2 separate regions of the Homo sapiens genome follow, and region 1 is linked to region 2. The links come from fine-mapping of genetic effects on gene expression. A gene starts in region 2. The other region holds a variant in brackets. All regions are shown on one strand. Distances are between the middles of the regions.

The links. PIP is the estimated chance that this variant, and not a neighbour inherited with it, causes the effect.
Region 1: its variant is fine-mapped to the expression of LINC01711 in cartilage (Steinberg 2020, PIP 0.95).

The regions. Positions count from the first base shown.
Region 1 is chr20:58,545,981-58,548,889 of GRCh38, reverse strand. It overlaps APCDD1L-DT (APCDD1L divergent transcript), which reads right to left. Exons shown (of 7, transcript NR_034147.1): 6 at 962-1,078. Among named protein-coding and RNA genes, the nearest start is that of APCDD1L, 32 kb to the right of the region's middle. RefSeq lists an enhancer at 2,328-2,829. The variant T/C (reference allele first, on the strand shown) is at 1,405.
Region 2 is chr20:58,633,477-58,636,385 of GRCh38, reverse strand. LINC01711 (long intergenic non-protein coding RNA 1711) reads right to left here and starts at 1,614. Exons shown (of 1, transcript NR_125359.1): 1 at 648-1,614. RefSeq lists enhancers at 1,391-1,460, 1,481-1,610.

The DNA.
Region 1 (2,909 bases), 87 kb after region 2:
CCAGCCCCAGCACCTGGGCCACTTACAACAACCTTCTCCCAGAAAGTGGCCTCTGGACTTCAGTGTTTGGGGGAGGGGGTTGGAGGGATGATAGCTCACTACTTAAAAAAATTAAAAGACACAGCAATTGGGCTGAAATAAAACTCTCACCTCTGCCAACAACATCAAAGTAGAGATTAAAGGCTGATTTTCAGATTTAAAGGCACTGTGCTGATGGCTTTGGGTGGGACCCTGTTTCTGCAGAATTACTGGTAATAGCAATTCTAGAAACAGGTTACAATAACAGCACTTACCAGAGATACACTATGTACTAAGGTCTCTGGATGATAAAGTGGATGGAAATAGCTCATTTCCATTCCCAAATTCACTAACAGAGAGAGCAGTTAGCCAGGGCAGACCATGGGTAATGATGCTCGGTTGTCTGTGAATTAATTTCTGGACAGTACTGCCAGGAGCTAATGCATTTTTCAGTGAAGAGGAGTTTCAAGAAATCTTAATGCTAGTGTGGATTGGTTAATCATTATATTTACATCATCTTGGTGGGGTGAGGGGCCAGCTGGGGTTAATGGACATTTTGGAAGATGTGAGAACGCAGCCTTGGCAGGACAGAGATAGGAAGCCATCCATTCCACCCCGGGGCTGAGAAACTCTGCCTGTCCTCTGGACTGCTGAATTGCTGTGCGGTCATTTCGGAATTAAAGATGGATCTACTTTCTGATTAGCAGAGTTCAGCTTCTTTTGTGAAACTTCTCAAACAGTTTTATTCCCTGGTTACCTTCACATTTATTCTCGAATCTCTATTTCGTGGAGAGGTTGGTGTCAGGGCAGAATTGATCCAGCAGCTTACTGTTAACGTGATTTATCAATAGCAGTGTGAGATCGTATACAAATGTGGCTTAGCATTTTGATGTCTTGGCCATGCTTGATGATAAGGTATGCATTACTATAAAAATAAACTTACTGTGGCTCCTGAATGCCTTTGTTTTCCTTTTGCCTGCACAGCATTCCCGGGAAATGATTAATAAGATGTTTCATTTAAGTACCAAGCAATCCAGAAACCGAGCAGGAACACAGGCACCTGGATGCAGGAAAGCTTGAAATTAACAGGCAGCCATAGAAAGTATAAGATTAATTTCATTTCCTTTTCTTATCTTATGCTCTCTTTTATGTCTTTCCCTATGTAAAGGGGGAGATTAATCCAGGAATGATCTTTTTGTTGGCAATTTTATATTATGTTTGACTACTTAATAGAAATCTGAGCTACAGCGAGGCAGGATGCAGAAAGCGTATCCCGAAGGAGGAGAGGGAGAAGTCATTTTGAGCACAGGAGGCAGATTTCACAGCCAGTGTCAAAGCTGGGAGCAGGAAGAGTAAAGCAAACACCACGAGGCATTCATTCATTCA[T/C]TCATCTATTCATTCATTCCACAGATATTTTCCCATAACGGCCACAGAGCCAGGCTGGGGAGCCTCCGTCATCCAGCCTGCTCCTTTGGGCTGCACCTGATCAAGTTTTTAGGGTGATTTGGAACCAAAATGAAATTCAGTACAATTCAGAACATATTTATTGAGCAGCAGCCATATGTTCAGCATCATCCCGGCTGCGTGGGGAATATCAAAAGGGGGGAGACATGGTGGCTGTCACCAAGGATCTCGCATCTAATTGGGGAGATAAGATACACACACAATACAAGGCAATTATGGTAAGAGCGTACATTTAAATACCACTCTCCTGTTTACCCACATTTCATATCAGCCTCTCTACATTGTTGGAGCCTCTCAACAACTTGGGGAGGGAGGGGGGCAGATATGATAAGTCTCATTTTGTAACTGAGGGATCCGAGGCTCAGCGGGGTCGGGAGGCTTGCCTCAAATCACCCAGCCATAAACAACAGCCCCGGACGTCAGCCAGGGTCGCAGGCTCCCAGCCTGTGGTGTGTTTCAACTAATCAGTTACACTGATTAAATGCCCGGTGGGGGTGGGTGGGGGGCAGCTGCCGGGGCTGGAGAGCTGGCCCTAGCCAGGCCTCCAGCGGCTCCTTTCTGGGGAAGTACAGGTCATGTCAGCCTTGCTTTGAATCCTGCCCCAGTTTTCCACCAAGGAGCCCGATGGCAGCAATGAAGGAGAGCCCCCTTCTCTTATCACCCTACTCCTGTAAGAATCCTATTCCACCTAGAGGGAAAAGAATAGGCAGTGAGTCCACTCAGGTCATCTTGAAGGCAACCCAGGGAATACGTGGCTGACTCAAGAACCCTGGACGTCACAGATTGGTGCCGATCACATGCAGACCACCATTTTACCATCAGGGCAAGCATCAATTTTAGGGTACCATGTTAACAAGGGCACAGATGATGCCAGAACCCAGCTGTCCCCAAAATCCTGGCACAGGGCAGAGCAAGCTGGGGCACACCGTGGGCACTACAGTTGAGAACCTGAAGGAATGAGCCAGGCCCGCCCTGGCTCTCCAAAGGGTGGCCTTCTCGGGCGCTCAGCCTGATTTTGCTCAATTTCTCCTCCTGCCTCTTGTGCTAAGTTAGAAGGACAGATGACATCATTCCTCCTCAGGCCCATTAACCACATGGATCGATGGCAAGAAATAAAATTTGGATTCTTCAAAAATCTCCACAGCAGATGGCCCCAGGAGACCAATTGCAACGAGATTCCTAATTAAATATAATTAAATAAGCATTAAGAGAGAGACTGATGCTCCCCTCTCCACATTACACCACTCTGTGCCAAAGAGTACAAAATTGAGAACGCCATTGTCCGCAAAAAAGCCACAAAGATCATTCAACTCCAGCCTCTGATGACCGAGCTGGGAAAACTGAGACCGGAGGGGCTACAAATTCAGCCAAGGTCTGCAGGATGTGGGGCTGACGACAAAAAGCTGACTGAGAAACTGACTCATGCA
Region 2 (2,909 bases):
CCACTTGCGATGAAAGGATTCCAAAGCCCTTCTCCTGAAATTTCTACAGAACATCTCTCTGTAACACACGCACAGAGGGCAGCCAGGGAGATTTACCAGTGAGAACCCTGCTTCCTTCCCTCCCTCCCTTCCTTCCTTCCTCCCCCCCTTCCTTCCTTCCTTCCTTCTTCCCTCCCTCTCTCTGTGCTCCCTCCCTCCCTCCCTTCCTTCCTCCCTCCCTCCCTCTCCTCCTCCCTCCCTTCCCCCTCCCTCCCTTTCTCTCTCTCTTTTTCTTCCTTCCTTCCTTCTTCCCTCCCTCTCTCTGTGCTCCCTCTCTCCCTCCCTCCTTCCTTCCTTCATTTCTTTTTCCCTCCCTCCCTCCTTCCTTCCTCCCTCCCCTCCCTCTCTGCTTCCCTTCCTTCCCTCCCTCCTTTCCTTCCTTCCCTTCCTTCCTTCCCCCCTCCCTCCCTCCCTCTCTCTCTCTCTTCCTTCCTTCTTTCCCTTCCTGCCTCCTTTACTTCTTCCTTTTCCTCCTTCTTTCCTTCCTTTTCTCCCTCTCTTCTTCCCCTCCCTCCATCCTTTCTTTCTTCCCCTTTGATCTTTTTTGTCTCTCAGCAACAATGGACCTCCAGTCGGCCCTGCTTTTTTCCCAGGAATGTTTATGGCACTCTTTCCCACTTGTTTTTATTTCCAAACGTGTAACAGGCCACCCATCAAAGGATGGAATAGGGAAGAAAGTGAGAAGAGAGAGGTCGAGGGAGCAGTCATCGGGTAGCTGCTCCTGGCCTTTGAGTAAGCCGTTTGCCCACTCGATTTGTCAGTTTGTTTGGCCCTCGATGGGGAGGCATCCATCCTTGACCCTCGGAGAGTCCTGAGAGACAGGAGGAGAGGGGTTCTCCATGGCAGTGAGGGGTTCCCTAGCAGGGACCCTAGAGAGAAACGGCTCCAGACCAGGCTTTCCCGGCTCGGTGCTGCTGACAGTCGGGCTGGTCTGCTGTGGGGCCGTCCTGTGCACTGTAGGATGTCTAGTGACACCCCAACCTTAAACTGTGACAAACAAAATTGAACCCAGACTTGGCCAGGTGTTCCCTGGACACAAAATCACCACTGGCTGAGAACCACAGGTCTCCGTGTCCAGAGGCCCTGCAGGGTGCCCCATGGCCAGTGGCTGTGTGGACTTGGTGGCCCATAAGAGGCTCTCGGTGACGCGGGGCTGCAGCACATCACACGACATGGAGCAGATCCGCCAGCGAGGCCCCGACCCAGGAGAGACTCTGCCCCACAGCAGCAGGTGTGAGGCAGCCCCCCACTCCTGGGCCAGGAGCGTCATCGCCCAGAAGGCCCGTGTGGGTGTCCTGGAGTGGGTGTGGCCTCCTCTGATTACTCAGAAAGGCAGCAGAGGTGCAGAGAAGCCTCTGGGGCCTGCTGCTCTGTGTCCTGTGGCAGCATCAGCCCCTGCGGCGGAGGGAGAGATGCCGGGACAGGCAGTAGTGTGAGTGTTTCCAGCCATCAGGTTCTGTAGGGGAGCACGCAGTCCCAGGGGAGGCCCACTTGGGTCCCAGCGGACCGTTAAGAAAGCTCTCCTCTATGGCTGCCCGAACTGTGGTGGGTATGGCCTGACCTTGACTTCCTGTACACTTTCATTTTTCATTTTTTTTTCCTGGTTCTTGGCTCTGGAAAAAGTGGGAAAACATATACAGTGACCATACTGTTGACGTCTCAGTCAGAGAAGAGGAACGATTTCACAGTAGCTGGGGGAAAGCGCTGGATACCACGTGCACTCATAAATCACGCCCACGTTTATGCATCTGCGGATGTGGGGCCGCAGATATTTTTCCTTTCTGAAGAAGAGAATTTAAGCTCTAGAAACTCTGACAAGGCCCCAGTAAATGGGGGCTTTTCTCCTGCCTGCTAAGGGCAGCTTTCAGAAGAGACGTTTGTCAAATGGAACCCGAGTCACCTTTTCCTGCTCTGCTGGATGGGCAGGAGCCGGGCACACCAGGGCAGGAGTCTCCCCTCTGAAGACCTGACCCCTGGGGAAGGCAAGCAAGATTTTCTTGCAAAAAGTTCATGGAATTAGAGACAAGCAAGGTGTCTTCCTGGGGACGCTCGTGGTACCGTAGCAGCAAGGGCCGTGGCAGGCACAGCATAGGGACTTGACAGGCATCGAACGAGTGACTTCGTGTTCCCAAATTGGCAGGATGGTTGACTTCTGTGTGCGGAACATTTCCCATCGCCCATCTGGCAGCCACGTGCTTCTGCCCCGTCACTGTCACTCCCTCTCTGAGTCGAGCTCGCAGTCACTAGGCTGCGAAATGACTGCTGAATACACTATCGATCAAACAGCACATGTTTTGAACATCTATCATGTATATGCCACTGGGTTAAGACCTAGAAAGTATATGGGGCTTTGGGGAGGGGAAGGAGGTTCTTTTAGGAAGGAGGGCAAATGCATGGCACACCTAACCCCACCCTCCCCTCCCATGCTCCTAGCAGACACTGCTAAACCATCACCACATGTGGCGCTTCAGAATGCTGGTTGACAGAGAGCTCTGGGCTGCTCCTCCTTGGGAAGGGCTTTCTGTGATATGGCTCTGGGAGGTAAGGGGCCACCCACTTGACTAGCCAGATGTGCCACAGGGATCCTGGTGATCAATGGTGTAAAAGACATCACAGAGCAATCACCCACATGTCACCCTATTCTGCTATTCTGAGTATTAGAGACCTTTAGGAGGTCATTACAGCAGTGGCGGTGAGAGAATTAGAGGCCTTTGGGAAGACACCCACCCCTCATAATACAAAGAATCTTAAGAGGCAAAGTCACAGATGATGACGGCCAGTTGAGACCATGACAGTAGGCCCAGGCTTTCTGTGGTATGGCGGCTCACCTCCACAAAGGCAACCCTGAAAGACTTCCTGGAGGTGGTGAT